Linked DNA regions of Homo sapiens. The protein of the gene in region 2 purifies or fractionates together with the protein of the main gene of each other region. This does not show direct contact. Each region holds a gene or a part of one and is shown on either strand. Other genes may lie near its edges. The genes, in order: NUP205 and RAPGEF3.

What was found.
Region 1: the proteins of RAPGEF3 (region 2) and NUP205 purify together in Homo sapiens (affinity purification with mass spectrometry, with the first as the bait; one study listed by BioGRID). This does not show direct contact.

What each region holds. Positions count from the first base shown.
Region 1 is NC_000007.14:135,574,830-135,578,651, forward strand, and holds part of NUP205 (nuclear pore complex protein Nup205), read left to right. Parts: intron 1-1,440; coding exon 1,441-1,585; intron 1,586-2,139; coding exon 2,140-2,299; intron 2,300-2,966; coding exon 2,967-3,195; intron 3,196-3,822. UniProt on the Homo sapiens protein: Plays a role in the nuclear pore complex (NPC) assembly and/or maintenance. May anchor NUP62 and other nucleoporins, but not NUP153 and TPR, to the NPC.
Region 2 is NC_000012.12:47,752,167-47,755,988, forward strand, and holds part of RAPGEF3 (rap guanine nucleotide exchange factor 3), read right to left. Parts: intron 3,747-3,822; coding exon of another isoform or gene 3,683-3,746; exon of another isoform or gene 3,536-3,682; intron 1,862-3,535; exon of another isoform or gene 1,768-1,861; intron 1-1,767. Other genes in the region: SLC48A1 (heme transporter HRG1), read left to right, coding at 3,683-3,746. UniProt on the Homo sapiens protein: Guanine nucleotide exchange factor (GEF) for RAP1A and RAP2A small GTPases that is activated by binding cAMP.

The DNA.
Region 1 (3,822 bases), on a different chromosome or scaffold from region 2:
TGGAGGAGCCATTTGAAGAAAATATGGGCATGTTAGTTGAACAAAAGTTTAATATGTCTAAAGATAATATATGGCTACCAAAATCCTTTTTGACCTAAGCCTGCACTAAAAGAAGTATGATATTGAGAATGAGGGGGATGTTCACTAGACATGCTTGAGTTTTGAGTTTAACTCGGAACTTTCATTTAACAAACATTTCTTCTATACCTACCATGTGCCAGGCATGGTGTTAATTATATCACTCCAGTGATATAAAGATGAATAAAATCTCAACTAGTGTAAATACGCTCATATTCTAATAATTGAGAATGATGTGGAAACAAATATTTTGACACAATTAAGTACAATTAATGCAGTTTTGTGCAAGATTTAGAGATGGTCCAGAGATTTAGAGATGGTATTAGATGGACCTTGATTGTACAGAGAACTCTTAACAACATCATGAAGTTTAAGGTAGATGTTGCAAAATGAGTAAGCATACATCAGGTGGAATAGGTGGTTATTTGGGAGGATGAAGGGCATCCAGGCAGAAGAAATTGCCTGTGCAAGAGGGTGAAGCAAGGTGATGAATTTGGGGAACAGAAAGGAGTAGAGTGGAGGAGTAGTTGCAGTAAGGGGAAAAGAAAGCTTTAGGAAATGAAACTGAAACTATAGGCAAAGTACTCTTAAAAAAAAAGTGAAACTTAGCCAGGCGTGGTGGCTCACACCTGTAATCCCACCACTTTGGGAGGCCAAGGCAGGTGGATCACGAGGTCAGGAGTTCAAGACCAGCGTGGTCAACATGGTGAAATGCCATCGCTACTAAAAATACAAAAATTAGCTGGGTGCTATGGCAAGTGCCTGTAATCCTAACTACTCAGGAGGCTAAGGCAGGAGAATTGCTTGAACCTAGGCGGCAGAGGTTGCAGTGAGATCACGCCACTGCACTCCAGCCTAGGTGACAGAGTGAGACTCCATCTCAAAAAAAAAGGTAGAACTCATTCAAAGGAGAGTAGTTAAAAGGTGACTGAACTTGAATTATAAAAAGGTTGTTTATTCAGAGAAGATTCCGAGGGAAGAAACTTAGAAATATTTGAAAGATTCCATATGAGATAGTAAAATGGGCATTGAATAAAATTAAATTTAGTGGACAACAGTGAGACCAAAAGATTCTCACCCAGTATGTAGAAATCACAGGTAAGTGTGAGAGTTAGAAATTGAGAGTTTGGAAAATGGTGAATTCCATGTCCCTGCTGGTGTTTAGGGATAAGTTGGATGGCCCTCGAATATGTTGAGCAAGAAGTTAGACAGTGGATGGATGTTTGTAGTAGAGGACCCCAGGGCCCCTTAAGCCCTGAGCTACTGTGATTCTTTGAACTGAACATTGTTATATTGATTTTTGTCTCCTCCTAAACACATACGTGTTTATTAACAATATTATTTCTCAACTTCCTTTTTTAGGAGAGCATCAACAGCCACATTTTCCTGGCCTTACCAGAGGATTAGTAGCTGTTCTTCTGTACTGGGATGGAAAGCGATGCATTGCGAATTCCTTGAAAGCCTTGATACAGTCTAGACGGGGAAAGACATGGACCCTAGAACTCAGGTCTTTTTACTTCTTGGGATTTCAGGGGTTAATTTGAAATTACTTGAAGTATGACAATATTTCCCTTATTATATACAATCTGAGCAATATGTAACATAAGCTGAGTAATATACTCCCTTATTCTGCCAAGACAGATATAACAATTTAAACCTGTTTTATTGTGTTTATAAATAAAAAATAATTTGGACCGAGGTGCAGTGGCCCAAATTATTTTTGGATTACAAAGTGCTGGGATTACAGATTACAGTCTTGAGCTCAGGAGTTTTAGATCAGCCTGGGCAACATGATGAAATCCCATCTCTACAAAAAATAGAATAATTAACTGGGCATGATGGCATGCACCTGCAGTCCCAGCTACCTGGGAGGCTGAGGTGGGAGAAAGACCTGAGCCTGGGACGTCAAGGCTGCAGTGAGCCATGATCACGCCACTGCACTCCAGCCTGGGTGACAGAGCAAGGCCCTGTCTCAAAAAAAGAGCGTTTGCTATACCTATTATTATGAAGAAGCATAAACAATATTGTTTAACGTAGTTTATTGATTTCTTTTCATTACAGTCCAGAGCTGGCTTCCATGACAACACGCTTTACAGATGAGCTGATGGAGCAAGGATTGACTTATAAAGTTCTTACGCTGGTGTCACAGATTGATGTGAATAATGAGTTTGAGAAACTACAGCGAGAGAGAGGTTTGGGCAGTGAAAAACATCGCAAAGAGGCAAGGGTTCAATGAAATCAATTCATGAGTTGTCTGTCAAATCTCAGAGGCAGAAACATGACAATTAGAATGTTCATTTTTTCAAGATGAATTATGTAGCTGATACCATGCCTGATTGCCACTTTTCTTTTTTTTTGCTTTTATTATTTTTCATTGACACAAAACTGTACATATGTATAGGGTACAGTGTGGTATTTTGATACATATGTATGATATGTAATAAATCATAATTAGCATATCCATCACCTCAAACGTTTATTATTTCTTTGTGTTGGGAACATTCAAAATTCACTGTACTACTGTTTGACAGTACAGTATACAATAAATTGTTAATTGTAGTCAGCTCGTAATGTATATTAAAGTTTGTAGTCAGCTGTGTCCATAAAATTGACTTGCAGTTGTTTCAGCTTCGGTATAGTCATTTATGTGCCATTCTAGCTCTTTTTATGAAATGAACAAGAAATTGGTCATCCCAATTTCTTAAGGAACTTAAGGATAAGGAATAAACAATAGGGTTTGTTCAGAATTCCAGAGGTGACGTCTTAGGATCACTTGTGGATTTTGATAGGTTTTTTTATTAGCCTTTGTAAAAGGTAGTTTGTACTTTGGAATAAGACCAGGCTTCACTGTAATTTATTTATACTGATAGTCATGTTTTTATTTCTAGGTTTCTGATCTCATTAAGGAGTGCAGGCAGTCTCTTGCAGAAAGCCTTTTTGCCTGGGCTTGCCAGTCACCTTTAGGCAAAGAAGACACTCTCCTCCTCATTGGACATTTGGAAAGAGTGACAGTTGAGGCTAATGGCTCACTGGATGCAGTGAATCTGGCTCTTCTTATGGCGCTTCTATACTGTTTTGATATCAGTTTTATAGAGCAAAGCACAGAGGAACGAGATGGTATTGAGTTTTATACATTTTCCTACATTAAAAAAATCAGATTTAAAATTGTGGGGATAACATTTAAAAAGGGTGATATTTTAGCTACTAAAATAGTCTGCTCTGTTCCTGTGTTTGCAGTCCGTTCATATTTGAATATTTATATATAAGATCACATTTAAAAAACAGCTGCAGTCCTGTTAATTATTTCTGTTTTTTGGGGGGATTTGGAATGGAAAGTATTAAAGCATATATTATACATGTTCATGATTGCACATGCCTAATTTACTTAATTGCTTGTTTCTTTACCATTCATTTACATTTTCAAACTTTTTATTAAAACATTCTGAGACAGTGACTGTCATTTCAGTAATGTAATCTTTGATCTGTGTTTTCTGTGAAGTAAATAAAATTTTTGTGATCTTTAGATAGCATGATTTCTATTTTAGAATTTATGTGCAGAAAAAATGAGTGTCTAACTTTTTTCTTGTTTATTTGTAGTACACTTATAAAAATGACTGAAAATAGTGAAATTGAAATTTAGGATTATTGTCATTTTCTTTTTTTGTTTTTAGTATGTGTACAATCAACAGTAGTGTACCTTTTGGGATGTAGAAATTAATGTTAATTGGTCATTATTCTTCTGTG
Region 2 (3,822 bases):
CCTGATCACCAAACCCAACTCAAGGACTGCCTCCCTACAGTTGAGAGCCCTAAGACACCCATTCTGCTTACTCAGGGCCCAGGTGTGCCCATGCCCCCAGGTGAACTGCCCCTGTTGGGGGAAAGAAGTGAGGGAGCTGGAAGGAGCATGAGGACATGAGATAAGAAGACCTGGGAGATGGGAGCCAGGATGTGAGCAGCTCAGGAGGCCTGGGAACATCCGCTCCTGGGCTGGGGTCACAGACCTGATCCCCAGCCAGGTTCTGTGTCCTTCCACAGGCCCATGAGCAGGTGTCTTGCCATCTCTGGGCCTCGGATCAGCCTGGTTGTCAAAACACAAACCCTGGAGCCAGGCTCCTGGATTAAAATCTCTGCTTCCCCACTGATGGCAGATGTGACCTGAAACAAATGATTTAACCTCTCCCTCCCTACCTGAGTCTCCTGAACTGTAAAATCTACAAAGCACTAATAATACCGACTCATGAGGTTTTGGGAGAATTAAATGAGTTGCTACACATCGAATGTTTAAAGCATTGCCTGGCATATAGTTGTATGCACATGTTAGCTAGTACTCATCTGTGAGGCATTAGGGTGGGGCTGCTTGCTGGAAAGCGTCTTTCTTCTCTGAGATGTTGCTAGCCTGTGCCCTGCGAGAGTGAATAAGTCCTTGGTGGCACACAGGACTGGCTCAGGAAGACGCACTTTATCATGGAAACACTGCTTAGTAAGGATTCCCTGCCCTTGGTAACAAGCCATTTGGAACTCCCGGGCCTGTACGCCCTGGAATAATGGCCATGAAAGCCCCTCACGACCCTTCTCTTCCTACCACCTGAGAATCTGGGGTTTGTGGACATCTCTGGACAGGATGCTCTACCATCTACGAGCCCTCTCAAAGGGCTCACTTTACAGTTTACAAAGCACTTTACAGTTTACAAAGCACAATCGCCCCCTTGATTTCATTGGATCTCATGTAAAATAGGATCAGATGTGAAATAGGCAGAGCAGGCATTGTCTGTCCTCTGTCACTTACAAGGAAATAAAAGCCTGGAGGTGAGGTACCTTGTGTAACTCAGTTGCGCATACTTCGGACAGCCAGACAGCTGTGGAGAAGTTCAAGTTCCCACCCAGAAGTGCTCCCATTCTCAGTCTCCCTACACCCACCCCACCTGCCCCTTTCCTCTCCCCTCACCAGCCACCTCTCTCCTAGCTTCCCATCTGGCTTCAGGTCCCTGAAAAGGACCTGCTGGGGAGTTGCAGTACAACCAGTCCTGGTGCTGGCAGGGCCCTGGGCACAGGCATCTTGGCACTGCGTGCCCAAGCAGAGGCCTGAGGTCTGGCATGTGCAGGCGCCTGGCCCAGGGCTGGGCGGAAGTCACTAGGTGTCCCAAGGGTATCCCTGCCCGGGTCATGGGGCCCAGCCCAGTGCCAGACACAGAGCCCTGGAGACTTAACGACAGGAAATGAGAAGGAGGAGGAGCCAGGGAAGGGAGGAAGGGCAGGAATGCTACCCAGCCAGCCCCCTGTGTCGGAACAAACAGTGCCTGAGTGCTAATGACTTGTTGTTCATATCAAAATGCCCAGGTGGCCCCAGTCCCTGCCCCAACTCCCATTGGAGCCCACAACCCAGGCTCCAGCACCAGCCCCCTTCCTGGTATTATTCTGACTTGGGAGAGGGCACATTAGGAGGGGTGGTGCTGGGTCACGTGGCCAGGTTGGTCATTTCCTGTCCTCCCCCAGGGGATGAGGATGCAGGTCAGAGAATGGCCCTAGTCCATGAGCACTGAGGAAGGGACTTTAAGGAATCCCTCTCATTTTGACAAGGAAAGCAAAAGCCCAGAGAGATCACACAACTATTTAGAAAGGTAAGATTCTACTGAATAACTCTGCTACTGGTGCTGACCCCAGAGGTAGGTATTTGTTTCCTATTTCACAGCTAGAGAAAAGAAAGCTCCAAGGTTCTATAACCTGCCCTAACTGTTGGTCAATAAGGGCACCAGGATTCATACCTATGTCTGATTCCAAAGGCCATGCTCTTAGCATTATGCCCTACCGTCTTCCATTATGCCTATTCCCATGTTTCCTCAGCTTTGTGCTATAGGCACAGACAGTAGAGGTATTCTGCCTTCAGGCAAGTTCTGTGGGCAAGTAAGTTTGGAAACCACTGGGTTAGACAAAGATAGACAGGTTTGTTATTCTACCCTCTCTGTGCCCCCAGGATGTTTGTGTGCCTGCCAACCTTCTAGGATGGGGCGGAGAGAGGGCTGCTATTCAAGGGCAGTGGTCAAGTGTGTAGGCTCTGCAGCCAGATGCTTGGGTTCAAATCCTAGCTTTTGCGTTACCATCTGGTTGTGTGAGCTCGTGCTGATTACTGAAGTTTGCAGTGCTTCGGTTTCCTCATCTGTAAACTGGGGTTGATGATATGAATAGTACCTATCACAAAGGGTTATGAGGATCAAAAAGTTAATAATATAAAGTACTTGGAATGGTGCCTGGATCATAGTAACTACTTAGTAAGTTTAGTTGACTTGATCAGATGTTATTATTTCATGATGGGCCCTATTACCAGGACACAGTGCAAAAAAATACAATGCTAGTCATGTCAGTTTCAGGGTTCTCAGTTGGGAAGAAGCAGCTGATATGAGTCAAGGTGAAGGTCCTCCTCACCCACTCCCCACTCTCATTCCTGAACAGAAAGGGTTCAGGGCGGAAGAGGAGGCACTAACTCCCCTGGCACCAGCACTGTGGCCTGCCCCACCCTCACTCCCTGTCACTGAATGTCAGAGCTGGGCTGGAGAGACAGGCACAGAGCCAGACAGCCTGGGGACCTGTCAGACCAGTTCCCTTGGGCCATAGCTAAGGTGTCAAGCTAGGGCTGCTTGTGGTGGGACAGGGGAAGGGTGCATGGGGCCGGGATGATGCCTTAAGGTGTCAGTGTTACTGTTCGTAGCAAGAGAGAAGTGCAGCATGGTGGTTATGTGGTTATGAGCTTGGACTCTGCAGCCAGATTGCCTGGGACCAAAGCCCAGCTTTGCCACTTAGCAGCTGCGTAACTCTGAATCTGTCACTTAACCTCTCTGTGGCTTTGTTTTCACATCTATAAAATGGAGATGATGACATTAGTACCTATCTCACAGGGCTGTTGTGAGAATTATTTGATATGATAAAGGCAAACCTCTTTCAATAATGTCTGGCACATAAGTACTGTATAACTATTAACTACTACTATTATTTGGATAGGTTGAATGAAAGTGCGTTCTCGGAGTTACAAAACAGGGCCACTTCCCCAAGAACAGTCACACAAAGAGAATCATCTCAGACTTCCCTGAGCTAGTAGAACCCACCACAGGTCACTCTGATCTTGCCCCTGCCCCCGGACATCAGACAAGATCTCACCTCCCCCTCTTATTTTCCAAAGATGTTCTTCCATCCCATTCCAGTGTCACTTTTGCAATAGCTGTTAAGTCTTATCTTAGTCTGTATCTAACTGCAAGCCCTCCTACTGTAACCCGCTTTCATTTTCTCTTGTCCTGGTCTAGGTAGGAACAGAAAGAGCTGTCTTCAGACTTCTTCTCTGGGAGGTTGATGGGTTTTCCCCTTGGCTTTCGAAGAGGGAGGTCTGGCCTCAATAACTGGCAGTGCTGTCTTCCTGGGACTCGGGCTCCACCCCTTCACCATGGGCGTGCATGCTCACAGCTGGCACTCATTCCCTCACGGAAGCCTTCCCTGGGCTAAAGGCATCATCAAGAGGTAAGAAGTACAGCTTCACAGGTACCCAGAGCCTCTCAAATATAGGCATGATGGAATGAAACCTCCCCACCCCAGT